7 separate regions of the Homo sapiens genome follow, and regions 2, 3, 4, 5, 6 and 7 are each linked to region 1. Evidence: fine-mapped expression QTL. A gene starts in region 1. Each other region holds a variant in brackets. All regions are shown on one strand. Distances are from middle to middle. Region 1 holds the start of PSTPIP1 (proline-serine-threonine phosphatase interacting protein 1). Region 2 has its middle 17 kb from the start of TSPAN3. Region 3 overlaps PSTPIP1 (proline-serine-threonine phosphatase interacting protein 1). Region 4 holds the start of LOC105370904 (a long non-coding RNA gene). Region 5 overlaps PEAK1 (pseudopodium enriched atypical kinase 1). Region 6 overlaps PSTPIP1 (proline-serine-threonine phosphatase interacting protein 1). Region 7 overlaps LOC101929457 (a long non-coding RNA gene).

What was found. PIP is the estimated chance that this variant, and not a neighbour inherited with it, causes the effect.
Region 2: its variant is fine-mapped to the expression of PSTPIP1 in whole blood (TOPMed, PIP above 0.99).
Region 3: its variant is fine-mapped to the expression of PSTPIP1 in tibial nerve (GTEx, PIP above 0.99). The same link has a PIP of 0.9 or more in whole blood.
Region 4: its variant is fine-mapped to the expression of PSTPIP1 in whole blood (TOPMed, PIP above 0.99).
Region 5: its variant is fine-mapped to the expression of PSTPIP1 in whole blood (INTERVAL, PIP above 0.99).
Region 6: its variant is fine-mapped to the expression of PSTPIP1 in whole blood (TOPMed, PIP above 0.99).
Region 7: its variant is fine-mapped to the expression of PSTPIP1 in whole blood (TOPMed, PIP above 0.99).

Annotation. Positions count from the first base shown.
Region 1 is chr15:76,992,905-76,996,968 of GRCh38, reverse strand. PSTPIP1 (proline-serine-threonine phosphatase interacting protein 1) reads right to left here and starts at 1,843. Exons shown (of 15, transcript NM_003978.5): 1 at 1,360-1,843. The coding sequence starts at 1,395. RefSeq lists a silencer at 1,659-1,848 and an enhancer at 2,089-2,138.
Region 2 is chr15:77,085,849-77,089,912 of GRCh38, reverse strand. No RefSeq gene overlaps it. Among named protein-coding and RNA genes, the nearest start is that of TSPAN3, 17 kb to the right of the region's middle. The variant C/A (reference allele first, on the strand shown) is at 2,079.
Region 3 is chr15:77,027,956-77,032,019 of GRCh38, reverse strand. PSTPIP1 (proline-serine-threonine phosphatase interacting protein 1) reads right to left here. Exons shown (of 15, transcript NM_003978.5): 7 at 3,368-3,466; 8 at 2,446-2,491; 9 at 1,439-1,518; 10 at 742-840. Among named protein-coding and RNA genes, the nearest start is that of PSTPIP1, 35 kb to the right of the region's middle. The variant G/A (reference allele first, on the strand shown) is at 2,332.
Region 4 is chr15:76,972,664-76,976,727 of GRCh38, reverse strand. LOC105370904 (a long non-coding RNA gene) reads right to left here and starts at 3,824. Exons shown (of 3, transcript XR_932492.2): 1 at 3,760-3,824; 2 at 2,797-2,973. The variant T/C (reference allele first, on the strand shown) is at 2,293.
Region 5 is chr15:77,377,231-77,381,294 of GRCh38, reverse strand. All of the region lies in intron 1 of PEAK1 (pseudopodium enriched atypical kinase 1), which reads left to right. Among named protein-coding and RNA genes, the nearest start is that of PEAK1, 41 kb to the left of the region's middle. The variant C/G (reference allele first, on the strand shown) is at 1,954.
Region 6 is chr15:77,017,431-77,021,494 of GRCh38, reverse strand. It overlaps PSTPIP1 (proline-serine-threonine phosphatase interacting protein 1), which reads right to left. Exons shown (of 15, transcript NM_003978.5): 2 at 3,247-3,347; 3 at 2,964-3,038. Among named protein-coding and RNA genes, the nearest start is that of PSTPIP1, 24 kb to the right of the region's middle. RefSeq lists enhancers at 1,505-1,634, 1,824-2,396. The variant C/T (reference allele first, on the strand shown) is at 2,197.
Region 7 is chr15:77,529,382-77,533,445 of GRCh38, reverse strand. It overlaps LOC101929457 (a long non-coding RNA gene), which reads right to left. Exons shown (of 2, transcript NR_135692.1): 2 at 1-2,343. Among named protein-coding and RNA genes, the nearest start is that of LINGO1, 100 kb to the left of the region's middle. RefSeq lists enhancers at 2,244-3,087, 3,088-3,929, 3,930-4,064. The variant C/A (reference allele first, on the strand shown) is at 1,526.

The DNA of each region.
Region 1 (4,064 bases):
CTGGGCTACAGAGTGGCCTGGGTTTCCAGGCCCTACCCCTTCCCCCAACTTTGCACACCAAGGCAGGGCAGCTAGGTGGTGACTCACATCCCCCATCCCCCAGGGCTCCAGCTGCCAGCCTGGGCCCTGAGCATCCTGGTGCCTGGTCCTCCGGATGGGCTGAGGCAGCTCTGCCTCCATTGGCTTCTCTGGGCTGGGCCCACCCTGTCTTTGTAGAGATGGGGAAACTGAGGCCCAGAAAGGCACAAGGTGCCCTCCCCACGTGGGGTCCTTTGCCTACTGTACAGTCAGAGCAGAGGAAGCAGAACACTCACACGCTGGCCACAGGCCCCAAGTGGAGCCGGCCGGAAGGGAAGGAAGGCCTGGCTCCATAGCTCTCATCCTCCTGGCTGCAGCCCCAGGAAAAGGCCCGGGGAGGGCAGGGCTGTTGGCTGGGGCTCAGCCGGCTGAGCCGAGGGCCAGAGCGTCCTCTTCGGGGTTGGAGGCAGCACCCCGGGACAGCCACATTCCCCAGCTCCAACCAGAGAGGTCTCAGTTTTTCCCCAGAGCCCTGGGCACAGCCAGAGCTGAGGGGCAGAGGGGTAGTTGAAGGACAGCTGGAAAAGTGCTGAGATGACCAGGGGTCCAAGCTGGGCTGCAGGCTACGTGGCCCGGGCCAAGCCACTTTACCTCTACCACTGGCTGGGCGCCCTTATTTCATGGGGGAAATGACTTGATTTAAGCCCGTGTTGAATTTAAGAAAGTAAGCAAGCCATTGCCCACCTGGCTGCCTCCTTGAAGGACCCCTAAGGTCTGCAAGGGACAAGGGGCTGGGTGAGGGGAACAGAATTACCATTTGGAGTGAGGCAAGGTGCTGGGGGCTTTAGTGCCTTGGATCCCCTTGCTGATCCAATGCTTTAGTTGGTGTGTTGATTTCTATTTTATCACCATTATATAGATGGAGAGACTGAGGCTTGGAGACAGAAATGACTTGCCCAGCCTGTAACAGAGCCAAGACCTGAACTCAAGTTTGTCTGGTCTCTAAATCTGTGACCCCTCCTTTGCTGCCCCACACATCCTCCTCAAGCCCCCACCCATGTGTTACCCTCTTCTGAGGAGCTCCTGCTGTGGGGAGAGGTCTCCCAGAGGAGAAAACACACGGGGCAGCAGAGAGGAGGACGCTCATTCACGGAGTCCACTTGCGTTCCAGTCCAGAAGGGGTGGGGGCCTGGGCCACCTCCATGACAATTAAGACCAAGAATCAACCACTATTTTATGAGAAAGCTCCCCTCTCGGAGCCGCATCCCATCACCTGCATGGAGATTTCAGCCTAGCTCTGCCCCCTCCACTTGTTCAGTGCCCCCAACCATCCTCACTCACCCAAAAGGCATCTTTGAACTGCAGCTGGGGCATCATCCTCAGGCGTCTGCCGCGGCAAAGCTCACTCTCCTGCCACAGGCTGGCCTGATGGAGGGCCAGGCGCCAGCAGCAGCGTCCCAGTCCTGGCAGGGCTGGCCCAGGCCCCCCTTCCCGGCCGGCGCCGTCTGCAACACTCAGAAGGCAGCCACGAGCCAGAGAGGAGCTTCTGAGGGGAGGAAAAAGCTCAACCTGTTTTGTTTGGGGCTAGAATCAGCAGCAAAATGAGGAAGGAGTGGAGCTCAGTGATGGGAGGGCGGGCCCTGGTGTCCAGCCCAGCCCCTCACCGACCCTGCGGTGATGGAGGACACAGTCTGGGACCCAGGGCAGGGAGCAGGGATGCCAGCCCTGGGTGGGAGGCAGTGGCCAGTGGAAGAGGCAGGCTGGAGCTCGGGCCGGGCCAGGCAGGCAGGCAGGCAGGCAGCCCGAGGCCTGCGCAGGAAGGTTTGTGCAACCTCCCCCGGGGCAGGCACAGGGCCCTCGCCCACAGGAAGTGGAGTTGCTGTGCTCCCCTGTGCAGCCCCGCCTGCCACCTGCCATCCTGCTCCTGCCTCTGCTTGCCCCCTCCCGAGGTGCGGGCTCACTTTATTCCAGAGGCCATATGCTAAGGGAGCTTGAGGCCCACTGACAGTGTGGCCAGGAGGGGCCCAGGAACCCCAGGTGTGTCACCCGCCAGCCAGTCCAGCACCCTTCCAGGCTGGGCCCAGAGATGCCAGACTCCCCACCCCGCACTAGCAAGTCATTCTGGAGGGGCTTACCCAGGTCTAGGGCATCTGTCATTCATCAAACCCTGGCTGCTCTGGGACCCAAACCAGGTCCTGCCCTCAAGGAGCCCATAGTCTGGGAGCAGACACAGCTGTGCTCTGGGGGGCTGTGAGCACACAGAGGCAAGGTGAGCAGGCAGCAAGATGAGGGAGAACAGCCTGAGGCCCCGGCACTGCCCCCACCACCACCACCGCCACCACCGCAAGTCTCCAGATTAGACGCTGTTTGGGGCAGAGAACCCCCTTCTGAAGATGGAGGCTTCCGGCTCAGTGAATGGGAATGGATGGAGAGAGAAACAGGATTATCAAGGCACAGAGTGGGGTGTTTGGAAACCCAGTCTGAGGCCCAGTTTTTGTTTAATTTTGACCCCACCTTTCAGGGGCTGAGGGACCTTAATAGACCCCCCAACTCGCTGAGCCTCAGCTTCCTCATCTGCCACACCCAGTCTTTGGAAAGTAGACGGTGTCGAGAATATTTCTGGAATTTCCAGTTTGGTGGGCAGGTGCTGGGGGCACTGTGTGGTACCACCTTAGGAAGAGCCCTGGACTAGAGCCCCAGCCCCAGCCCTGAGACGCCACGCCCTGCCGGCTCAGCAGAAGATGCAGCAGGAAGTCCTGAGCCCAGGGCAGGCTGGCAAAATGGGGTGAGTCAGGGATTGTCCGCAAATCACCACCCTCACTGATGTCTGCCTTACAGCTGACGGGGTGATAAGATGAGAGCTGCTGCAGATGAAATAGTTGAGCTCCCAAGTGCCCATTATGCATGCCCAGGGTTTAGAGAGAGGGGGCACACCCAGGCTCTGAAATAGCCACCCAAGAGGAAACACTTTGGGGAGGATTGCAGAGCAATGGGACTGCCCCCAGAAGGCCCTCACCTCCAGAAACCTTGGATTTGAGCTAATCTTTAATCTGTAAGGCGCCCCAGTCAGGTTTTTTGTTACTTGCAGCTGAAGACAATTAATAGTGTAAAAATCCCCTTGAACTTTGTAGGCCATAGAGTGAGCCAGGCTGCACCTCACCTCCCAATGGCACCACCACCTCTGATAGCACTGGCTCAGCCTCCCTGAGCTCAGTTTCTCCATCCATCAGATGGGATGATGCCTCTAGGTCTGGAGCAGACTAGAGACCCTCTGTTAACAGAAGGCTCCTGCCTGCTTATTGGCAGAAATTTTTACAGCTGGGCTCCCTGCCCTGCCTCTCTAGGTGTCCTTCCCATCACCTCCCAGAGACTTCTGCTCCAGCCAGGCCTCTTCCCTCTCCCTGGAGGCACCTTTCCCACTCCCACCTGCTCTGTTCCCAGCCTCCCTTCTGGCAAGCCTTCCTTGATCTTCCTTACCTGGGCAAATCCTCCCACCCTCAAAGCCAACCTCAAGGCTCCCACACATGAGGCCTTCCTTTCCCAACTGTACCTGTCCAGCCAGGGCAGCCCCGGATGGAGGGCCATGCTGGTGACGGGCTGGAGCAACTGGGGAAGGAAGTAATGTGAGGAACCTCTGGAGAGACTCTGCAATTCTCTACTAGAGAGGCCTTCCTCCTCCCCTCCCTTCCACCCTTACCTGTTGCAGGTCCCCAGGCTGGGCGACCAGACAGCCAATTCGGCTTTGGAGTACTTACCCAGCACCGGGTACATCATTCTGCTTTTCACACGGACCACCTCAGTTACACTGTCATTATCCCCACTTTACAGAGGGGCAAACTAGTGATTAAAGAGTGTAAGTAACGCACCCAAGTAGCAGGCAATAAGCAGAAGGCTGGGCTTTGGTCCTAGATCTGTCCGAAGCCAAAGCACACGCTCTTAACTTCCACAGTTGTCTTTTACTAACAGCCCTCTATTCAAAAAGCGTTTCATTGTTCCTTTCTCCAGTTCTACCTCGAGACCCTCTCACCCAAGTCAATAAAAGGAAA
Region 2 (4,064 bases), 93 kb before region 1:
CACCCTGGTAGACAACATTTTGTGAATTTGGGACACTGTCCACCAGCGTTTGGTATGTGAGCACAACCAGCAACCAATTTATACTGATCACAGCAATCTTGGCACCAAAGCATGGATGTGGGAATGGTGCCCTTCACTAATAACACCTTTTCAATAAATGCGCTTCTTGTTCCCACAGCTCTGCGCTTGTTGGTTTACAGGTTTTGATATCCAAAGGAGTAAAGCTTCAATGTGAGTAAAACACAATGGCTGCCTAAACAGGAAGTTAATACTGACAGCCCACCACTACGGGCTCTCCATGGTACTGGACAAACAGGCCCAAAGAGAGGTCAAGGCTTTGGCTTCAATGACTGATTTAGACCCGTGCTGCCCAATACTGTGGCCACTAGCCACACGTGGCTATTATATTTAAATTATCTTGAATTAAACAAAATCAGAAGTTCAGTTCCTTAGACACACTAGACACCTTTCAAGTGATCTGTATCCGCATGTGGCTCCTGGCTACCATATTAGCCAGAGCAGCTATGGAACATTTCCATCCCTGCAGAAAGTTCTATTGGACAGCATTGATTTAGACTATCAAAGGTAATGGGGAGGTCACTGCGATGGGGGCATGAAGAAGTGAGGTTGACCTCCAGGATCCCTCTGTCCTGTCTGCTCATCCTCCTACAATGCTCATCCTCATACAGTGGTCAACATGGAAGAAGGTACAACAAACCTATTTAGGCAAGGGCACCAGGGCTTAGCCCCCTTGGGAATAATGGTCTAGGTCACCCTACCAGTAAAGAATGCCTGCCACCCAAGGTGTGGGTGGAGGACACAGGAAACATGGAATAAATGAGGAGGGAGGTCACACATCCTAACCACAACCATACAGAGCCTGTATGTTCTTCCTTGCTGTGCCATGGGTATATTTATATATTTTAATAAATGTATTTTGTCTTTCCCTTTAATCCACTATTGTATACATTGTTGCAGAATATTGAGACAGGAGTGGGACAGAATTAGAGAAGGAATGGATCTCACCCAGAACTACTGGACTTGGAGTTGTACAGAATAACCATTATTAGGCTGTTCTTGCACTGCTACAAAGAAATACCTGAGAGTGGGAAATTTATAAAGAAAAGAGGTTTAATTGGCTCGTGGTTCTGCAAGCTGTACAAGAAGCATAACACTGACGTCTGCTTCTGGGGAGGCCTCAGGGAGCTTTTGCTCATGGTGGAAGCAAAGGGGGAACAAGCATCTCACATGGCAAGAACCAACAACCAGATCTCCCAAGAACTCACTGTCTCGAGGACAGCACCAAGCCATGGGGGATCTGCCCCCTGATCCAAACACCTCCCACCAGGCCCCACCTCCAGCACTGGGAATTACATTCGACATGAGATTTGGAGGGAACATGCAATGCAAGCTATATCAGTAACTGAGAAAAGAAGTGAAGATATTTTCAGATGTTAGGCTGCACCTTCTGAGGGAGGAGTGCTAAGTCACAGAAAGAAGGCAGAACTGTAATAAAACCTTGGTTATTTTGCCTGCCGAGAGTTTGATTCTCCCAGTAGCCTTCCCATGTTAGTTTAAGTAGAGTTGATTTCTGCTGTTTGCGAACCAAACCTCTGACTGATCCAGAAGTCTAAATGTTGGTAAAGAATAGACCACATGGCTATTTGCAGATAACATGTTTGTCTTCCCAATCAACAGGAAAAAAAAAATAGAAATCATTAAGGAATTTACTGTGGTGCAAAAAAATAATAATAAATGTTGGAGGTGATGGATATGCTAACTACCCTGATTTGGTCATCACACAATGTGTGCGTGTATGGAAACATCACACTGTACCCCACAAATATGTACAATTACTATGTGTCAATATTTTTAAAAGTCAAGAATTTACTGTGGTGGCCAGATACAAGATTGCTTTCTTGTTTATCAGATTTATTCTGAAAGAAAATCTAATTTTTAAAACCTATTTTGGGCCAGGCACGGTAGCTCACACCTGTAATCCCAGCATTCTGGGAGGCTGAGCCGGGTGGATCACCTGAGGTCAGGAGTTTGAGACCAGCCTGGCCAACATGAAGAAA[C/A]CCCATCTCTACTAAAAATACAAAAATTAGCCGGGCATGGTGGCATGCACCTGTAATCCCAGCTACTCGAAAGGCTGAGGCAGGAGAATCGCTGGAACTCGGGAGGCAGAGGTTGCAGTGAGCTGAGGTCACACCATTGCACTCCAGCCTAGGCAACAAGAGCAAAACTGTGTCTCCAAAAAACAAAACCAAAAAAAACAAAAAAAACTATTTTCAATGTAAAATAAAACCAGACCCAGAAAGGCCTTAAATGCCCAACTGTTTTGTCTTGGAGGAGCTGAGCAGCCAGAGAAGGTGTGAGAGCAGCGAGGCCAGTGTTAGGAAGCCTGGTTGCAGAAGTGTGCAGGAGGGTGGGACCTCCCAAGGCCAGGCTCATTCCTCCGGGGAGGTGCCTGCTGCTGTCCCCTGTGCAGGGGCCTGGGGCTGGGCATGGCTCAGATCCATGGCAGTGCCAGCTGCAGTGCACTCTGGTAAGAGATGGGGGTGTCTCACCCACTGGAGCCAAAGGAGAGAGCAGGAGGGCCTGGGGTATTGGAAGGGTCTCTTGTGGAGTGTGAATCACTGCAGCCCCTCAGGCCACAGCAGATGCAAGTTTTGTGGTCCCTAACTTTGTACAATTTGGAGGCCTTCCTTAAGGAAAATAATAAAAATCATAAAGACAAAATTAACAGCTGGGCACGGTGGCTCAAACGCCTCTAATCCCAGCACTTTGGGAGGTCGGGCAGGTGGATCATTTGAGGCCAGGAGTTTGAGACCAACCTGGTCAACATGGTGAAACCCTGTCACTACTAAAAATACAAAAATTAGCTGGGCGTGGTGGTGCATGCCTGTAATCCCAGCTACTTGGGAGCCTGAGGCACAAGAATCGTGCTTGAACCCTGGGAGACCGAGGTTGCAGTGAGCTGAGATCACATCACTGCACTCCAGCCTGGGCGACAGAGTGAGATCCTGTCTAAAAAAATAAAAAAAATAATAAAAAAAGACACTATTAGGTACAGACATGAATAGTTACTTGAAATGAGAAAATAAAACAACCTACAAATCAGAAAAGTTGACACTACAAATATTATAAAATCCCCCCAATAGCAGTATATTTTTTATTCAGTGCTTAATAAACATTTATAATATCTTTTTTCCCTTCATTTTTGCTACATATCTTTTGGCTGCTTTTTCATATGACAGTACTTTCGTGCTGCCATTTTCTATTAAGAGAATGGAAAGATAATTCACTGCTTGCCGTGGTATGGTTGACTAATTTGTTATTTTATTAGTGATAGTTTACAAAAATCTATTTTGGCTTCATGACTTACTGGTAAAGTCGTGTACATTTTTAGGATTGTTGTCAAGTTGAGGGAAACCTTTATCAAATTTCTTTTATAAATGAGCTGTAAGATTTCAGGGTTTTCAAGTTTTCTTGTGTTGCGGACCAATCTTAAATACTCTGAATTGATGGTGCTCGTTAAGGAGAGCAATTCAGATGCATTCTTAAATTGCTACTACATTGCTTTGAGCTACATAATTGTGTAATAAAATTACTCTTATGTCACATACACTGTACTTATTGATGAGCACATGTAGGAGTTTTGTCACAGGAACACTTGTTTCTTCAGGCTGTCTTGCTGTGTTGGTGGCAATTTCATGTGCCATTTCATCCGGAACTGCCAGACCTTATCAGGACAAGATCCATCAGTTGCACCAAGATGTGATTCCATATACTGGAGTGCATAAAACATCTATCTTCACACACAAAAGTACTTGTTGCTTGTAGAACTGCTGTAACACTCAAGCACTCACTATAAGCAGTGATTTTTTTTTTCTTCTTTTCTTTTTTTTTTTTTTTTGAGACAGGCACTCTCTCTGTTGTCCAGACTGGAGTGCAGTGGTGCTATCATGGCTCACCACAGCCTTGACGGTCAGGCTCAAGCGATCCTCCTACCTCAGCTTCCCACATAGCTGGGACCACAGGCATGCACCACCACACCTGGC
Region 3 (4,064 bases), 35 kb before region 1:
GACTTGCCCAAGGTCACAGCGAGAATGCAGCACAGCCAGGCCTTGGGGCTAGGAGAGTGGGTCCAGAGCTCGCCCTTCTACCTCAAGGAGGCGAGGAGGCAGCAGGGGGCTCGAGTCACTTGGGCAAAAACAACAAGAAAATCAACCCCCACAGCCCCGGACAGGAGCGTCAGGCAGGAAACACAGCAGGCAAGGGGGCCAGGGCTGCCCGGGAGAGCCGTGTGCTGGGCTGCATCCATCCACAGAGCTCAGGGACCCTGGCTGGGGGCCCTCTCTGCTGGGGAGGACCCACCCAGCAGGTTGGGCTCAGTAAGGGGAACCAGGACACCCTGGAGATGTGGGGAGCAGAGGAAGGACTGCGCCTCGGCTCCTGCAAGCACCAGGCCTAGAGCAGAGCAGCCACGGTCCTCCAGCTTCTGCCAACCTCTGACAGCTGTGTCCACCTCCCCTCCCATCCCCGGCAGAGGGGGCAGGTGCTCTGTGGCTCTGAGGCATAAGGAGGAAGTCAGGGGAACCACAGAGTCATCATCTTCCAGGCAGAGAAGCCATGGCCCTGTGTGGTACTGAGCTCCTGTCTTGGGGTTCTGGGGGCAAAGGCTGAGCTGCTGAGGCCTGAGACCCCTGGGGCCAGGCTTGGATCACAGAGGACCAGGTGCTTGTTGACCGGCTCAGATGGACCTGGGTGCTTTGCTGCCTAGAGGCTGCCCTACCTTACCCCACACCAAGGCCCTCAGCCCCCACCTCATCATCCTTGACACACTGCATGGAGAGCTGGTTGCTGTGCACCCACAGGGCGTTGCGGAGAATGGTCAGCCGGTCAAACTCTTGCAGCTGAAAGGCCTGGGGGCAGTGGGAGGGAGGTGAGCAGTGAGGAGGCGGCTGCAGGGCCCGGCCAGGCTGGGCCCCATTCACAGCTCAGCCGGAGCTGACCAGGCCAGCCCTCTCTGCTGGAAGCCCAGTCCAAAGGAGAGAGTGCCCTGGGGTCCCCATCCCGACTCCGGGCCAGCCCTGAGGCTGCAGGGAGGGAGGTGGAGATGCCCAGGGGGTCCCTGCCCCAGCCTCCCTTCAGGCTGCACCACACCGAGGCAGAAGGGTAGTGAGAGGGACCTCGGACGGGAGTCCTGAGCCCTGTTCCCCAGGCCCTGTCCATCGGCAGCACCCAGAGAGGCTGTGGGTTTAGTCCAAGTCCCAGTTTTGGCTTCAACAAAGAGGGTGGAAGAATGCCTGCCTGCAACGAAGGGGCCCAGGACTCAAGGCCAGGCGACAAGCAACAGGGCCAGGGCCCAGCACAGGCCTGTGAGCAGGAGGCTGAATAAACGAGTGAGTAACAGGTACCTTCCCCAACTGCCTCACTTGGGCCCCTTTAAGCAGCTGGAGTAGGGATGGGCGTCTCACACTTCCCAGCTGGGGAAAACGAGGCTCCACGTGGGCCACTCACCTCACAGGTGGTCCGGTGCTCCTGCTCCCACTCAGCCCGGACCTTCTCCAGCTGCGCAATGCTCTGCCTGTATACCCGCTCTGAAAGCGCAGGCAGCCTCAGGGAGGGCCCTGACACGAGCTCCTCCACCCCTGTACTCCAGCAGGTCCCATCCTGGATGCCTCCTCCCACTGGGAGCCCCGCCTCCCCCATGGGACCTGCCCTAGCAGATGGCGGGGCCTCATCTGAATGCCCGTCAGGGCCACCCACGCTGGTGCTGCTGCTGCTCCCCAACTGTGCTCTGAGCTGCCTGAGGGCTGGAGTGGAGCCTCATATATGCAAGTCCAGAGTATTGGCCTCTGGGCATCTCTGGGCGCCCCACCTCACTTTCCAGAGGGGAAACTGAGGTTCAGAGAAGGCAGCTGAGAGGGCGCTGGAGGAGGGGTGGAGTCCCACAGGCTTGGGTCACAACTTCTGTGCCCAGATCTCTGGAGGTCACCTGTCCCCCAGCCGAGGGAGTAGCTGAGTCCCAGTAAAGGCAGAGCAGAAGGGAGAGGCCTTCCCAGGGGAAGGGAGGAGGGTGGGTGCTGTGTCTGGTGGGTGGGGCACCAGCAGGGACAAGAGTGTTGGTAGGATTCGGGCATCAAGTGAAGGACAGAGGCCCAGAGAAGGCTATGTGCACAAGTCCTGGGCTCTGAAGCCCGATGGCCTGGGTTCAAATGCAGCTGTAACCTGGGGCAAGTACTGGACCTTTTAGTGCCTCTGTTTCCTCATCTGTTAAGAAAGGGAACAGTAACAGCAGCCACCTCGGAGGGCAGCTGTGAGGACTGAACACATGAAGCGCCAAGAAGGGCTGGCGAATGGGGGAACACAGCGTTTACTTTGACGGCACATATCTGGAATGAGAGCGCCGC[G/A]CCCATGATTGTGCAGCCAGGGGGAGTGTGTGTGTCCCCAGGGTGAGGAGGTGTGTGTGGGGAGTACCGCCCAGGCCTCCGCCCTGGTCGGACGGGGCAGCCAGGCCCACATACCTGCCTCGGTGGCCGAGTCCTTGCACTGCCTGGCTTTGTTCTGACTCTGAGGAAACAGAGGGGAAGCAGCGCTAAGCCCCTGCCCCAGGAGCCAGGGCCCACCCCAGCAGACCTGAAGTGACTGTCAAGCTTCCCCGGCCACCCTGGGGGGAACATTCAGGAGCCAACTATGGGCAGATGCCATCATCCACAAGCAACCTCCGCCCACAGAGGACCACAGGCTAGCTCCATGGAAAGAGAACGAAGACAGGAACCGAGCCCAGGAGGATGCCTGTGAAGAGTGAGACCACAACCCACAGGAGAGGTGCAACTACTGCTGAGCCCCCTGGCTGGGACTTGGGCTCTGGCCCCTGACTGACTGCCCCCAGCTCACCCTCAGGCCACTTCCCTCTCTGGGCCTCAGCCTTCCTGTCTGTGCAATGAGTGATGTGTTTCCTGGGCTCTGGGAGCTCTGATACCCCCACTCTGGCCTAGGGGCCACAGCATCAGGAGCATGGGCTCTAGACCACCTGAGTTGGGGGTCCCTTTTCTGCTGCTTCCTGGCTCTGAGACCTTAGACAAGTCACTTACTGTGAGCCTCAGTTTCCTCTCTGTGACATGGGCCTACTGAGCCCTTCTCCAAGGTTGTGTGAGGGTTGGCGTCTGCTCTCATCACCCTGTGGGCCTCAGTGGGCCTGCACCGAGGAATGGGTCCCTGAGTGCCGCCTGACGGTGGCAAAGGGGATCCAGCTGACCTGCCTGTCCATGGCCTGAGGTTCTCTCCAGGAAACCCATTTCACAGATGGGGAGATTGGGGGTCAGAGAGGGCTAAGCAGCATCCCCAGATGCAGATCTTGCCTGGGGGTGTCTACGGCACCCCTTCCTTGCCTCCCCCACTGCCCCCAGCCCTGGGCGACCCACACGGCCCAGCAGCCCAGCGCACCTTCTCCACCTGCTTCTGGTGGCCGTTGGCGCTAATGCGCTCGAAGGCCTGCTCCGCGTCGTCCGCGTCCCGGCACTTCTGCTCGTATGTCTTCTTGGACTGGGGGTGTGGAGGGGCGTGACTTGGGGGCTGCACAGCCCTGTTCTGTGGTCCCCGGGAGTGAGGCTCCCTTAGCCCAGCCTCCCTTTTTCCCTGGCGAGGGTTGCGGGTGGAGTGGGGGCATCCTCACCAGGGACAGGGATCTGGGGGTCCGGAAGGAGATAGAGAAGGCGTGGGGGCTGCTGGTAGTCCTGCTCTCAGGCCCTCCCCACTGAGGACAGCGCGGCCTGCCCCGGGCCCCGCCTCCTGGGCTGTGCTCTTCGGCGAGGGCACGCCCCTCGCCACGCCCCTCGCCACGCCGCGCCCTCTTAGGAGCCCCTCTCCCTTCCTGTCCAGCGTCTCGCAGGATCAAGCTCAGGGGTCCCTCCTCCCTCCACCCCTGGAGTCCCCAGCTGACTTCATCTGCCCTTCATTCACGAGCCCCACAAGGGAAGGGCCCGGGACCATCCCCACGGGGCCATAGCGCCCAGCACGGGCCCAAGCGCCCCGCAGGCTGGTGCGCCCAAGGCCGAGGTCCGAGGACCAAGGCTGAGGTCAGCCTGTTCCAAATGCCCTGCCCGGGGCCACAGCCCAGGATCGCACCCTGAGACCTGCGCTG
Region 4 (4,064 bases), 20 kb after region 1:
CTCTTTGCCTTGTCTCTCTCTCTCTTTCTCCACTGGACTGTGAGCATTTAGGGTGGGGAGCAGTTGGGTTTTAGTTCTCTTTGATAGAGCAGCATCCAGGACAGAATCTGTCCCTGAGTGGATGCTTAATCCACATCTGTGGAATGAATGAGCAGATGAATGAAAGGAAAGGACGGGAAGGCTGGACCAGATCCCAAGCCACTCACTTCCTTGAAATCAGAGTTCCCCCAACCCAAACCCCACTAGGATTCTCTCCTAAAGCCTTTGGCAGTTTTGTTGCCTGAGAAACAAGAAGGCCCTTCTCAGCAGTTCCCCCATCATCCTATGCCTAGGGACTTGGGGCTGGAGGCCTGAACAGCCACTCAGGAGCAAGCTCTTCATCTATCATTTCCTCTAATCTTCATAGCAATAAAATATCAGAATTGTGATTCCTCATTAACATTTGCAGAAACTAAGCCTCAGGGCTTGAAATTTGCTCAAGCTCTTATAGCTAGTAAGTGGCAGAATTCAAATCTCCCTGTCTCCAAAATCCATATTCTTAGAGACAAGACTGCAAAAGTGACCTTGGACAAGCCCCTTCTCCTGCGTGAACCTTGGTTTCCCCTCTGGGTAATGAGGCTGCGGGTCCTCAGAGGGCTCAGCTATCCATTTCCACTCAGATAGTCCACCATAATAAAATGTCCCAACTCATCCTTCCCCAGCTTCCCTGCGTTACTGGAAGCAGCCTGTAACCTACCGGAATGTAGGACTGCAAGCTTGCCAAGCGAGGCCATGTTCACCTGGCTGGAGAAGAGCTCCTGTTTCTCCTCAATGCTGGCAGAAAGCCCTGGGAGCATAAGAGCACCTTATCTGCAACTCACCTAAACAGGTGTGTATGGGGTTGCTGGCCATTGCCTCACATCCCCCCCGCCTTAACCCCCTGGGTTGCCATCTGAGGGTTGTGGAGGGGCTTCATGCTGGCTTTGCTCAGGTCTTATGGCCAAGAGGCACCAAGAAACACAATATCTCCCCCTGCCCCAGTACACACCCCACCCTCAGGGAAAACCCTTATAATAACAGCCCGCACCTGCAGTCTCCCACCTTAGCCTAGTAAGGTAACCAAGACACGGATGGCAGCCGCATGTTATAGCTGGGGATCCTGGGGCTCAGAAAAAGACAGTAATGTTCCAGAGACTATCCAGCAGTTAAGTGGCAGAGCTGAGACTGAGTTCCAGCCCCCAGGCCAGTATTTAGTGCTTTCCTTCCAGAGCCCATGTTAGTCCAGGTCATGTAGCACATTTATTGACCCCTGCCACAGGCAGGGAACCATGAGGCCAAGGAATGGGCAAGATGCAGCCTCTGCCATTGAAGGGTTACAGTTCAGAGGAGCAGAAGGATAAGGTCTCATTCAGGAGTTAATAAATGAAGATTAATAAGATTACAAAACAAGTGGATGAGGTGTCAGAGCAGGGGGGGTCCTAGTGCTGCCCAGGAATGGCGGGCACAGAGTGGGAGCCTGCAGAGCCTGCTGAATGCAAGGCTGGCTGACTGAATAAGGGGCTGTTTCACTACCCAGAGGGATGCAGGAGGGTGGCAGGGAGGGGGGTTGAAGGAGAGAAAGATAACTGAGCAGAGGTGTGGCAGAGGGATGAGGACCCACAGTTTGACATACGTGCAGGATGCACCTCTGAAAGGATAAATAAAGCTGTAAAAATTCAGTAAGGCCACATTTTTGTACCACTTTAAATGCCAAGCCAAGTATTTTCAAAGATTCTCTGCAGATGAAGGCTGCTGTTATAAAATATGGTTTAGAAGCATTAATTTGGCAGCAACACAGTAACTAATCAGAGAAACAACGGCAGCCCCTGGTGGATATGTGGGCAGGGTGAGCCGGAGGCAGGGAGGCAAATGAGGATGCTGGAGAGGCTGGGCCAGGGCCAGCCAGGGACAATGGGAAGGGAAGAGCTGGTGGGTGACAGGGGCTGGTGTCTGACATCGCCTTCCTCTGATCCAACAGCTTGGCCTCCCTGCTGGCCAGCCTCAGCCCCACCCCATCAGAGGGTCAGCCCTGACCCAAGAGGAGAATAAGAAGGCAGCCAGCAGCCAGTCTCACAAGCATTGCTGGTGGTCAGCTTCCTCTCTGGATGAAGCACATTAACATGGTGAAGCTCCTGGCATGCCCCCTGGCATACAGGACCACTCAGCCCCTAGACCCGGGCTTATATCTTTCAGACCCATAAGTGCCACTTCATCTGGATGTGGGACTCTTCCTCCAGCCTGCCAGAGCTGGAGTTAGGACCCTGAACCCCAAGC[T/C]GAGCTACATATGGCCCTGATGCCAGGAGCCACCCGGACCTCCTTGTGGGCCTGTGTCTGTCCTCCTCGTTCTTACTGCAGTTAACAATGCTGTATTTGCTTACTTGATTTTTGTCTCTGATATCCTCCAATGTCAGCTCTTCGACACTAAGACCCACACATCACTTGTTCACAATTATATCCTTCAACTAGCATGGTACCTGACACCTACAGATATCAAAAATGGTTGTGGGATGAACGAGTGACTGTTACCCTCATAGTGGGTGCCCTTACCCAGCCAGGGGTCATGCTTATTTCCTAAGGGTCTGCCACCCCCTCCACCTCCACTCTAGGTTGCCTCAGAGGCACTCACACCCCCATGGGGTCTTACTCACCTCCCCACTCTCCTACCCTAATCTCACTGGACTTGTCCCAGGCTGTCCTTAACCATCAGAGTCATGCCATGGGTTAAGGGCCTAAAGGACAAATAAAAGTCCCTCCCCACCCCATCCTCCCACTACTTACTGTGTGGTGGTGTCTATTATACAGAGAAGTCGTGGTTGTGTCTTTCTGAGATAGGGCCATCCTGGGGGCCACCAAGGAAGGCCCCTGCTCCCCTGCTAGAAGGAGGTAGGAAATGGAACTTCTGGGCCAGGCAGGGTAGAGGAGAGCTCAATCCCTCTTGGTCTGCATTTGGAAAATCTGGAAGAATAGAAGAAACTTCTGGAGCCAGGGGAGAAAGATGGCACTGAGATCAAGGCAGGAGACACCCAAGCTCTGCCCCAAAAGAGTTTTCCAGGTTTGGGTGCTGCCGGGAACAATTTCCATTGTTCTTCCCCAAGCCTTTATCTGAATGGTCTTTACCACCCCCACTGGGCTCTGAGCTGTCGCCTGGCAGCTGCCGTTGGTTCAGGCTGATTCTTGGATGCTGGAGGAACAGCGCCTCCTAGAGCCCAGGAAGGTGGAGCAGCAGAAGTCAGCAAAAGCCCCCTAGACCCCCTGTGTCAGGGCTGCTTGAAGAGCCTGGTGTCACAGCCAGTCTGGACATTTCTGAATTTTATTTAGCCCAAGAAGCCTGAGCTTCCTATGGTGGCTTCAGTCCAGCAGTTAGTGATGCTGTTCCCCTCAGACCCACCCCAGGTGCAGGGGCAGGTGCAGCGATCAAGGAGGCACCACCTCATCCCAGGGTGTCCCTGCTCAAGTCTTCTGCCTGCCCCGCCCTGCCCCAGGCCTCCTCAGTCTTGAGACAAGAGGTGGCTGCTCCCTACCCCGAGCTATGCAGAAGGGGCAAGCTTGGTGTGCAGGACTTTCCAGCGAGTCCTTCGGAGTTGCTGGACCGCTTAACTGGACCTCGAGATAACTTCTCCCAGAGCAGATGGGTGGGGACTGGCGGCTCCTTAGCTGTAACCTTCCTACCCCAAATCCTGTTGTTTCGAGAGTTAATTCTGGAGCCACAGGGAGGATGGGAGGCATTATTGCCCTTCATACCTCCAGAAGTTCTCTTTCAGGCACAGGAAAGGGGTTTTGGCATCTGCCGTGCTTGCAGTTTTCCAGACTGAAACGTCTGTATCAGTCTTATGACTCAGAAATTCTGTTCCTGTGCCTATGAGGAGGGAGCGAGGGGCGGCGGGAGAGTCCGCCGGCCCGGGAGTAGATAAGGAAAGTGGGGTTGCTGCACTGCAAGTACACGCATTATGGATATAATGGATATATCTTAAAATCAAAGTGTTTAATGAGAAAAGTAGGAAACCAAGTGAGATTTTTATAACATAATGCCATTCCTGTAGTTAAAA
Region 5 (4,064 bases), 380 kb before region 1:
TACAAGTACACATCACTGCATCTGGCCATTGCTGTATTCTTTAAGGATCAATTATGTCATGTTGAGTTGGTTTCCTTGCTTCCATTGTCTCCCAACTGTAGTCCTAGATTAGCTTTTTAGGTTATTAATCTTAAAACATGATTTTTAGCATGTTACTCCATTATTTAAAACTCCATAGTAGCATTTTGCTGTTTGGGTTCCACAGAGCCTCTGGGATATTCTCTGTGAAGAGGGAGAGCAGGGTTTGGGAAGTGCTGGGGAGCCAAGGCTGACCTAATAAGGCAAATCATATTATTAGCTCATATTGTCTAAATAAAACTTATTTTACCTGGCAGTTATGCTTCACTCTGAAATTACCTGACAAATAAGTCCCTCCTAAAAGATTGTGTATTAAATGTAGATAGTTTTGGGTTGATGAAAGTGGCATACCAGGGTTTCCAGCAACACTTACTCTGCCATTTGGGAGAGAGGGGGATGCTTGTCAAGCAAATAGTTGTTGCATAATAACTGATTTTTGGCCAGTCATGGTGGCTCACTTCTGTAGTCCCTGCAATTTGGGAGGCTGAGGTGGATGGATCACTTGAGCCCAGGAGTTTGAAACCAGCCTGGGCAACACAGTGAAACCCCATCTCTACACTAAGTACAAAAATTAACTGGGCATAGTGTTGCATGCCTGTGGTCCCAGCTACTTGGGAGGCTGAGGTGGGAGGATCACTTGAGCCTGGGAGGTCGAGGCTGCAGTGAGCTGTGATCGTGCCATTGCATTCTAGGCTGGGTAGCAGAGTAAGAACCTGTCTCAAAAAATTCAAAAAACTGATTTTCTCATATCTCTTTGACAGTGGACCACGTACATAATAAGCAGAAAGAGGAATAAAAAGGGATCTTGCCTTTAAAGATCAGTTATGTCCAGCCTTCCAAAACTGCACTGATCAGTACCACCAGAGTACTCAGAGAGTTGCTGTTTTTGCTGAAAGGGTGATTCTAATTATCTGGCAGATTTTCAGGTACGCCAGTGGCATGACCTAACCATCGGCCTGTATTATTACATAACCAGCGTGTATTATTGATTACCAGGGCAGGTCATGCTATTGACCGATTCTAGCTCCCAGGCCAGTATTGATTTGCTTTTGGTGGAAGAAAAGGAATGAAAATATTCTTGAAAATCAATATGTCAAAGAATATAACAAAGACCAATGGAGCTAAAAAAACAAGATAAAACAAAGCTGAGTTTATTTATTTGCCAGGTAAGGAAATATAGTAAGGATTTTACATTTGCCAGGTAAAGAAATATAGTAAAGAAATTCAGTGAGTAATTGTTGAGGAAGAAAAGTCTGGATTTTAGTACTAGAAAAGAGCAGTGGTTAGGGTAGGTTTGGAGTAGTTATCCAAATTAAGTATTGAAAACCAGCATTTTGGATAGGATGGCATGAATTCATAGATCTGTATATGATTGGTTGAAATAAGTCCCATTCTAGTGAAACAGCATTTAGTCTTGGTATCTTGTAGGCAAGTCCTGCTGTAAACGGAAAAGTTTCCTGTTACAAGAGTTTCTGGCCCGTTTTCTAAAGCTAATTAGATCTCTTATGAAGGTCCTGGACCTAACCAATCCTCTTAAGGGTCCCTATTGGTGTATTCTATGTTGGATGGGCCCTTGGGTTGGCAGTGAACAGTTCTTACTCTAGATATACACTTCTAGAATATTTGCAGCAAACCCCTGAATCTCTATATATTGGATTTCGGGAACCCTAGCCTAGTATGTCCAGCTAGAAAATGGCTTCCCTCCATGTATACCGTTCTTCCCAGAGGGTATAGAATTGTAAGTATGAGGGTGTTTGATAAGTGTTATTTTTGTTACATTGTATTCAACTTAGGATTTGTATATATTTCTAGATAGTTTCTTTAAAGACTTAAAGTCTCATTTTATTCTTCAATGAGCTCTTCAAAAGTGACTCA[C/G]ATTCTCTTACGACTTTTTAGTTCAATAGAGAATGCTAATTCAGGTTCCTCTTAGAAGGACTGCTAGATAATTTTGCTCCTTATGGGAAGGTCTTGCTGTGGACATCCCCAGATTTTTGAGTTTCTATTTGAAATATATGGTATTCAACTACTTTTATTTCATTGGAGAAAATGTATAACTTCAGATTTTCAGCACTATTTGTAGGTTGCCTTTTTCTTCTTTCTTGTTACCTAAGTGAACACATTTATTACCAATATAACTTGTAATCCCACTGGAGAGGATTGCAGTGCTTTTAGGCAATCTCATTTCAGCAGATATAGCTCTTTAAAAACAAACCAGTTAAAGACAGTCTCAGCTGAACTACAGTTGTTTCTTGTAGACCAAGGAAATATAGGGGTGGCGAGCAAAATCCTCGGACTTACACAGTCCATCTCAACAAACATGTTTGTGCTTGGCTAAAGACATGGTGATTACTTCTTTTCTATAAATGATATATGAATGAATCCAACACAATTCTTGGTAGCAGAGATTGAGGGCCTTTTTGTAGTTTGACTCAGATTTCGTCTTCAGGATTATTTAATAACACTTCAAAGGTATTGTGATTTATTTGCTTTCCAGTTGAGTTTTTGACATGTCTATTTTCTGAAGCCAAAGAGAATTGACAATGTGATTTTTAAAAGGATTTATTTCAGCATATAAGTATGCAATGGTATTGACCTTCCAAAAACCACTAAGACATAAAATGTTATAAAGTTTTAGTATATAGTAAAGAGTGTGTTAGTATGTCAGCAAAGGGAAATATTTTATTTTCCAATACCTTTAAAATGGAACAAATAACAAACTCTAATTAAATATAATTTGTAATATGTAAATAATACCGTGAAGTAGCAAGATTCCTGGCAGTTAGACTATTGAATTCCGTACTCTGTAAGAAGCACGAATTTTTGACGATCATTTCATTTTGCTTTTGCTTATGACTTCCACTGCCCATGTATGTCAAAGAGAGAGAGATGATCTTTCAATAGTTTACTAAAGAAATGAGATGCTTCGTAAAATTGTCATGTGGTTGGCCTTTTTACAGGTGAAATAAGAATTACAAAATGCTTGCTTGCTTTATTTTTATGGGATTATGTATATATATATATATATATAATATTGTTATACAGAGTCAGTGCAGTCCTTAGAAACTTACAGTTTTAGGAAATGTGATAGTCAGGCATAGTTTTCTTTTTAAACTCATGTGTAAAATAATAGCATATTCAAATGATAGGCTAGTTGTTTTGTATGAAGAGGAGAGATCACTCTTGGTCTCAACTTGCCCAGTCTCATAGGCGTTGTTGCACTGGAAGAAAATATACCACATGTGGTTTTTACATGTCCAAGCTCAGTAAGTTTTATTAGGTGAAGTAAAGGAGTTGGGCTCTAAGGTGATTTTTGAATCAGCAGGTGATACAGTAGATGAGATTCAGGAAGTTATTCCAGGCACTAACCAGGTAAGAGTTGTAAATACAGTTATGCATGGAATGACAAAGTTTTGGTCAACGAGGACCACATAAGAGTATAACATTGTTGGCCTGGCATGGTGGCTCACGCCTGTAATCCCAGCACTTTGGGAGGCCAAAGTGGGCGGATCACCTGAGGTCAAGAGCTTGAGACTAGCCTGGCCAACATGGTAAAACCCCATCTCTACTAAAAATACAAAAATTAGCCGGATGTGATGGTGCACACCTGTAGTCCCAGCTACTTGGAAGGCTGAGGCAGGAGAATCGCTTGAACCTGGGAGGTGGAGGTTGCAGTGAGCTGGAGGTTGCAGTGAGCTGAGATCGTGCCATTGTACTCCAGCCTGGGCAACAGAGTGAGACTCCATCTCAAAAAAAAAAAAAAGAGTATATATAACATTGTATTTTTCCCATACCTTGTCTATGTTTATCTGTAATTGTGTTTTACTTTATTTTTTGAGACAGAGTCTCACTCTGTTCCCCAGGCTGGAATGCAGTGGCTCAATCACTGCCCACTGCAGACTCCACCTTTCTGGCTTAAGCAATCCTCCCACCTCAGCCTCCTGAGCAGCTGGGACCACAGGCATGTGCTACCATGCCCAGCTAATTTT
Region 6 (4,064 bases), 25 kb before region 1:
GTTGGCCAGGCTGGTCTCGAACTCCTGACCTCAGGTCAGCCTCCCAAAGTGATGGGATTATAGGCGTGAGGCACGGCGCCTGGCCCTAATGCTGTCTTTAAAATGCACTGAAAGCGCTGGTGGGGATCCCTGGAGTTTGGGGACTGGGTCTTACTTGTCCATCCTCCATTGCCACTGCCCCACGGATGTTTGCTGAGTTAACATGTGAAGGAGGTACATGTCAAAAATCACTTAAGATGTAACCTCCTGTTAATTTCAGTGGCCCGAGCCTCCAGGCCTGAGGGTGGCTCCCGGCTGGTTTGAGGTCAGGGGACTGCAGAAATGCAGTACCTTCAGGCAGCAGTTCTGCCCTCAGGGCTCACTAGGCTATTTATAGGGTCACTTAACCACCTGGCTTTTGTCCTCGTTCTGCACCCTGTTCCTAGCCTTCCCATCCCCCAGTCCCCTGCCCGTTCTGCAAGGGGCAGGGAATGAGCATCCCATAGACCTGGGGGGCAGCTGTGGGCCTCAGGGAGGCCAGGGGCTTCCCCTACTCAGGGATGGGCCCTGGAGGGTGGGCCACCAGCCCCGATGTTGAAGAGCCGGGTCACCTTTCCTGAGGGCCAACACACACACCCCCCCCCCCCACAGGAGTCTAAGATGAGGAAACAGGTCCACGGCCACTGCTCACACTTCCCCACCAAAAGCCCTTCAGGTTGGCATGGGGAGGGGTAATTGGGTCTAAGCCAAGACTCTGACAGTAAGGCAAGGCAAGGTGTCTGGGAGGGCTTCCTGGAGGAGGTGGCGCATAAATGGGCCCTAATGCAAAGGACTAGGAAGGAGAAGGAAGTCACCCTCACTGTGCTGGACTCTGGCTAAGGAATGGCAAAGCCCTTTATTTTATTTTAAATTAGTGAATCCTCCTGACCCATCCAGGGCATGGCACATAGTAGGTCCTCAATTAAATGGTGACTAAATGGATGGAGGATGGATGCTTGGCCTACACCGAAAGGAACAGCTGCATGGCCTCATCAACAGTACTTCATGCCACATGGGTCAAGAGCAACACTATGGAGCCCCACTGTGTGCAGTGAACCCCTGTGGCTTGGCACTCTCTGCTTGTCCTTGTGACTGCCCAGAACACCTCTCCAAGTGACCATCCCCTTCCATAGGTACAGACCCTGGACTCAGAGACAGGGAGGACCATCCAGGGCCACACAAAGGATAAGTCAGGGCAGACCCTGCCCCACCTGGCCTTGAATAACCATGGCGCAATCAGGGCCGCCCAGAGCCTCCACCTGGCCCCTTCCTAGTTCTACAAATGGAGCAAGATGTTGCGTACCTCCTGCTTCCTGAGGCCCACCCTGCTCCCCACCCCCATTGTATTTTCTGTGGGTAGCTTCTCTTTCCCTGCTGTAAATCCCCTGTGACTCACAATCCCCTGAGCCTGCATCACACAGACCCACTCCAGCCTGGCTCCCATTGTGCCCTGCTGGGGCCACCCTCTCCACCTCTCCTGAGTCTCTGAGTTCTCCCCATGAGGTACCCTCTCTTTCTGGGAAAGTTCTCTTCCAGCTGGCCTGGAGGCTGGGAGGCCAGGAGACCAGGAGGGGCTCCCCTGGTCATGCTGCCAGGCCCCCACAGCTGCTCCTCCCCTGGCTGAGAGCTCTGGGCACTGCTTCCTGCAGAAAACACCTCCCTGCATACGTCCATTCACTCCTCACCATGTCCTGAGCCCTCCTCTGTGCCCAGCCTGCACCCGGCCCTCAGCCCTTCCCTTGGGAGGCCCTCAGACCATGTTCTTGTTGATTTGCACGGCAGCTCGCTGGAGTGGGAGGTGAGAAACAAACTTGGAGAGGCTAGGCGACTGGCCCACAGTCCCACAGCTCAGATTGGCCGAGCCGGGACCAGAGCTCCAAGGGCTCCTCAGAGCCCTCCGTCCTCCCAGGGCTGTGTGCAACTTTCTGGCCTCACACACGGCTCATGCCACATCTAAGCCTTCCTGTGATCTCTGGCTCCTGGTTGGAAGCAGGAGCCGCCAGGGTGCCTGGTGTCTTTGGGGGACCTTCAGAGTATGGCACATTCAGTTCCTCTCTCGGGGGAGAAGGCAGGAAGGGAAGGGGTTCCACAGCAGCTGCAGGGTCAGGCTCAGGGCCCCTCGGCAGGAGGACTCTGCAGAGCCCTTTCAAGAAGTTGGAGGCCGGTGGTCTGTCTGCC[C/T]CTTGGCCTGGCTCTGTCCTCACCCAGGGGGACAGTCTGGGCCTTCCCAGAGCAGCCCCTCCACTCCACTGTTAGGGTGGCTGTGTCCTGAACTCACCTTCATCTCCTCACCTGGCCTCCCACCCCAGCAGTCTGCGTGCAGAGACCTGTGGGGCTGGAGACTCCCGCTTCATCAGAGCCACTTCCCTGACGGCCTGCCCTCTAACCAGGCCTCAGCTAAGCCCATGGGCCCACTTCTTCCTTTGAGGAGGGCTGCGTTACTTTCCCATCACTGATGAGGAAACGGAGCCACAGAGTGTGTCAGCAGCCAGCCCATGGTCAGACAGCTGGGGGGTGAGGAGCTGACACCGGAACCCAGGTGTGTCCCCTCCTGGACCCCTGTCTCTGGCTACATCTCCATCCTTGAAGCCCATGCTGAGCCAGTGCTGCAGGGGACTTGAGCCACCAGTGGAGACGCCTGTCACCTGCCCCTCAGGACTTCAGTGGAGGCCACCCAGGCTGGTGCAGACTGCGCTGCAAATGACTGAGGATGGATGGCCTCCTGTCTCCCCTGCCCAGACCCTTTCCAGAACTCAGACCCTCGGGCTTCCTCCCTCACAGAACCTGGCCTCACCCTGAATGCCCAATAACCAGGCACCAAGGAGCAATCCAGACCTACCCTGGTTCTGCCCAGCCTCCCCCATGCCAGGAAGACCTAAACCTCATCTAAAGGCCCAGAAACTGCCAGCAGAGGAGAGGAGTGAGCCCCAGGGCCCGGGAGATCTTACTTGATCTCCGTCTGGCCACCTGCCTTCCGTGCGATCTGCACCAGCTCCTTCCCGTACCGCTCCTCCGCCTGGGCCCTGCAAAAAAAAGGGCATTTGAAAGATCATCAGTGACTTGCCACCTCTGGGGGAGGCCCAGGTTTGAGGGAACACAGAAGAGTTTTTTAAAGCAGGGCGTGTTCTGACAGAGTTTGGCTGGGATGGGGGCCTCGTCCACTGTCCCAGGAGCCGAGCGGAAGCCACCTGCTTCCTGCCTGCGCTCCCCATGGCCTGCCCAGCAGCTCACCTCTGCCTCAGTAGCTCCTCCATGTCTTTGCACATCTTCCTGCCATCCAGAAGCCGCTGCAGCAGCACCTCGTAGCCCGTGTGGGCTGTGAAGTCCCTGCACTGTGACACAGGACAGAAGGACACATGAGGGCCACGACCAGGCGACACTGAGCACAGCCCTGTGGGGACCCTCCCACCATCTCTGGGAACAGCCTCCCTCCTGCCTCCATCTCCCCTGCTCAGGGCAAGCTCTTGGGACTCCAGACCTGGCTTTACACAGGCACACAGGAGGTCCCCTCACATCTGCAGAGGTGACAGGTACATAAGTGAGCCCCACCCAGCTGACAGGGCCGGGGGTGCCGGGCCTGGCATCTGGAGAGCTCACAGGACAGGACACACATCAGCATGAGATAGCAGATGGGAAGAGCCACCCTTAAGTCCCCCTGATGACAGCCAGGCCTGAAATTCACTCACTCACAGTGCCACCCTTCCAATATCCCTATCTCAGCTAAGTGGGGAAACCGAGGTGTAGGAGGGTGACATGTGATCGTATCCAGAGCGGCCCAGCTGGAAAGTGGCTGGCCTGGCCTTGAACCCCAGGCTGTCTGGCTGGGGTCCCTGCCCTTCACCTCAGCACTGTGCAGTCTCCATGACCATCACAGCAATTGCGGTTTCTTGGGCACCAGCCATGTGCCAGATGCTGCGCTGGGCTCTCTGTGGGCTCAGGAAACCCCCCCTCACGGAGATCCAGGGAGGTGGGCATGGAGGGTGACTTCAGTCCAGGTCAGAGCATGCGCAAGCACACCCTACATTCACCTCTGGACTGGGGTGGGGTGG
Region 7 (4,064 bases), 540 kb before region 1:
CTTCTTGGGTAGGGGTCCTTGTTGAGGTTGGGGCTGCTGAGCAAGGCTGGCCCCCTCCACCAAGACTCTCCCCTGCACCCTTTGGAAGGCTCTGCTCTGCCTTGGGGATTTGCCTCACTCACTTTCCCCCCACAGCCTTTCTCTCCTGCATCAAGTCATTCTTTGCTCCTGCAGAAATGTCAACCTTTCACTCAACCTCAAGCATCTCCTTATCCTAGAGAATGGCTCAGATTATGGCTCAAGGACATCAGAAGTGAGAGGATCGAAAGGCTGGGACACCAAGGCTCAGAGGCGGCAAGGGCACAGGGAATACTATTCTTCTGGAACAGTCCCTGGACTGTGGGTATGAATAGGTGCTGCCTACCCACAACCTCCCCATCCTCCCCGCCTCAGCCAACCTCAGCCAGGTCTAAGTGGCACCTGTCCAGGTTTGACAGAGGTGATGCCCAGGTAGTAAGGGACAGAGTCGCAGCCAGAATTCCTCCCTCGTTGAGAGCAAGGCTCCTAATCTCGCTGAGCCTCCATTCTCAAAAACGGATATACACTTCTGAACACCAACAACAAACAAAAATTGTGGGCATACTGTTATTTACACCCCAAAATATTTGAGAGCTTAAATGAGATAATCCATGAAAACTGTGTAGCATAATGCTGGTCCCTAGTAAGTGCTCCAAAATGTTAGCTATTATTATTCCTTTGTTATGATGATAATTATTACTGCCCTGGGTGCTTCCAGTGGGAACTATATCTCCCTGTAGGTCTGTGTCTCCCAAGCTGTCTGGCACAGAATTCTGTAGACAGTAGCTGCTCAATATTGAGTTAAATAGTTAAGAATTTTCCATCCATTGGGACAAGACATGGGCTCTGGAGGTAATCAGAGTAGATTCAAATCCTGGTTTTGACTTCTTTGCTCTGTGTGCTCCGTGACCTCTCCAAGCCTCAATTTCTTCATCTGTGAAATGGGTGAATAATCCTTTCCCTGCCTTCTTTCAGGACGGATGCATGAACCAGAGCTGGAGAAAACTTTCTTAAACTACACTCTTCCTTATTCCTCCTGCCTGTCTCATCAAACTGGGTCTTTCTCAGGGACCCTATGTACCTGAGTCCCAGGAGGGTCCTAAGAGAGGCAGGGCTGGGGACAGCTCCCACCATCTGCCCCTGACTCCCCCATCTCCAACCCAATCATGAGCTGTGTGCTGCCCTCCAGGGCCCAGCTGCTGAAAGTGGACCCGTGGACAAGATCATGGCAATGGCCATCCTGGTATCACACAGGATGTTGGAGCTAGAGATCTGATAATGTGGCCAGAGAGAATGAACATGTGGAATCCAGCAACAGAGATCAAGGCCAGCCCCAGCCATAGTGACAGCACCACTGGATAATGACTGCCTCATCCACGGGGTTCTGAGCGATGGGGTTTTTGCCTCTGGATGTGGATGTGTGCTTCTCTTTGGGGAGAAGGTCCATAGTTTTCACCATCTTCTTAAAGGACTTCCAGACCCTCAAACTGTTCAGAACCAGGAGCTC[C/A]GTTCTCCACCCAGGATCTGCCTCCCAGCCACACCCACGTCCTTACTGACAGGGAGAAGAGGCAGGCAGAGGGTGCGCACGAACCTGAAAGCTCCACTGTCCGGACCCCGGACGGGCCTCAGACAGGACAGTGAGCTCCCCGGAGACACACAGAGAACCGTGGTGAAACCCTCCAGCACGGTGCCTTCCTCATGCCAGGCATGAGGCGGTTTAAAGCCGAGTGTTCAGTAAAGGGCTGACTGAATTGTCACACCCTGGGACGAGCTCCCGGTTGCCTCTGGGCTGAGCAGCCACCCTGCTGACCTCCAAGGTCCCTGCCCACTCTGCTGTTCTCTGCTCCTTCATTAGGGAGGGCCAAGGACAGTCTGGTGGTTTGAAGCAGAGGAGTGAAAGTCATTCCTTCCCGTTGACCCAGCAACGTCTGGATCAGGTGAACTTTTCCAGAGGGCTCGCCATGTCCCTGGCATAGTGCTGCCTGCCCGTGGGGCTGAACCTGCTTCATCCTCCATTTTAGAGATGGAGAAAGCGAGCCTCAGAGAGGCCAAGTGAGTCCATCAAACATTGAGGTCACATGGCCAGTACGTAGGGGCTGGATGGGGCAGAGCGCCGCGAGGCAGTCCTGCAGGGATGCCATCTGCCAAACCCTTTCCTGGAACTCCTCTCTTTTCATTCTGTGGGCCTGCAAGAGAGGCCGGGCAGGGGCGCTGTTAGGAAGCTGAGGCGGCAAGAGTTAGAGTGACCTGCTCAAGGTCACACAGCGAAGATAGGGCAGAGGTGAGGCTCCAACCTAGGTCTTCCAACGCCCCATTCTCTGGTCCCTAAAGAGACAAATGTTACAGATACTTTGCTTTAAGATGTACTGAAACCCATCCACTCATCTGCTCACTCATTCCGCAGGTGTTTCTCAGGGACCTACACTGTGTTTGGGCACTGTGCTAAGTACTGGGGAGGGTTTCAATGTTATCAAAGCAAACAACAATGCCTGCCCTCCTAGAGTTTATATTCTAATGCAGGAGAAGGAGAAACAACATAAGTAAGTTAATTACAAAGTGCCAGAAGGCAATACATCTGTGGAATGCAACAGAGCAGGGTCAGGACATGGGGAGGGCCAGGCGGAGGCGGTTTAAAGTCGAATGTTCAGGGCAGGTCTGGTGAGAAGATGAACATCAGGCTGGGTGCAGCAGCACATGCCTGTAATTCCAGCACATTCCACCCTCCTTGCCTTGGGAGGCCAAGGGGGGTGGATCACGCGGTCAGGAGTTTGAGACCAGCCTGTCCAACATGGTGAAACCCCATCTCTACTAAAAATACAAACATTAGCCAGGCGTGGTGGCATGCGCCTGTAATCTCAGCTACTAGGGAGGCTGAGGCAGGAGAATTGCTTGAACCCGGGTGGCAGAGGTTGCAGTGAGCCGAGATCGCACCACTGCACTCCAGCCTGGGCGACAGAGTGAGACTCCATCTCAGAAAAAAAAAGAAAAAAAAAGGATGAACATCAAGCAGAGACTTGAAGGAGCTGGGGAAATGAGCCAGCCATGTGGACCCAATGGGAGGAGTCTGTCAGCAGAGGAGCCGCCTGTGCGAAGGGCCTGAGGTAGCAGTGGGCCTGGGGTGCTTGTGGACAGCAGGGAGCCTGGTGTGGCTGGAGCAGAGGAATGGGAGAAGAGTGGGAGGCGATGATGGGGGAAAGGTGGAGAGAGAGGAACAGATCATGCCTTGGCATTAAAATTGCCCATGGGCAGATGGGCCTTCCTGGGCAAATCTGAAGGTCTCACAAATGATGGAGTCACATGGGGCTCATCACAACCAGAAGCAGAGTGGGAGTGGGGGCATCCAGCCCTCTCACCTCCCCTGGGAGGAGTCTTCTTCCTCCACCTCTCCTACCCTCACCCTGTGCCACCCCATGCTGCCCCTACCCCACCTCATGCTTGTGGTGTGTCCCCAGGGAGACTGGGCCAGGCTGGGTGAAGGAGGAAGGTCCATAGCCTTCCCCAGCCTAGGAGTCTGCTAGCTGCTAGTCTGAGTGAGCTTTGAACCTGCCAGGCCCTGCAGGGGCACTAGAAACCATTAGCAGGCAAACAAAAGGCCTGGGGAGGCCTATGAAGCCACCATGGAAGCCTACAGCTAGGTTTATTTCGAATTGAATAAAGAGCCCTGAAGCCCAGCCATAACCACCCGCTACTCTCCACACCCCTCCCAGACTCCTGACCTGAGGAAAGGCAGGCCCAAGGGCTTGTCCATGGCCACACAGCAACCGAGGCCAAAGCCCCGGTCATCTCCAGAGGGGAGAAGCTTTCTGTGCCCATGAGTGCAGGGCAAGCCACGGCCCAGAGAAGGCCACCACAGGTGAGGCCCACACCGGGCACGATGTGCAGAGTGGGTAGGTGGACACTGAGAACCCTTCGGGTGAGGCCCGAGCCAGTGAGTTCAGGGGCTGAGGGTCTCCTCATCTGTTTACTCGCTGTGTGACCCTAGAGAAGTGTCTTAACCTTCCTGAGCCCAACTGCAACATGGGGTTCCTAATAGCCCTACTTTACAG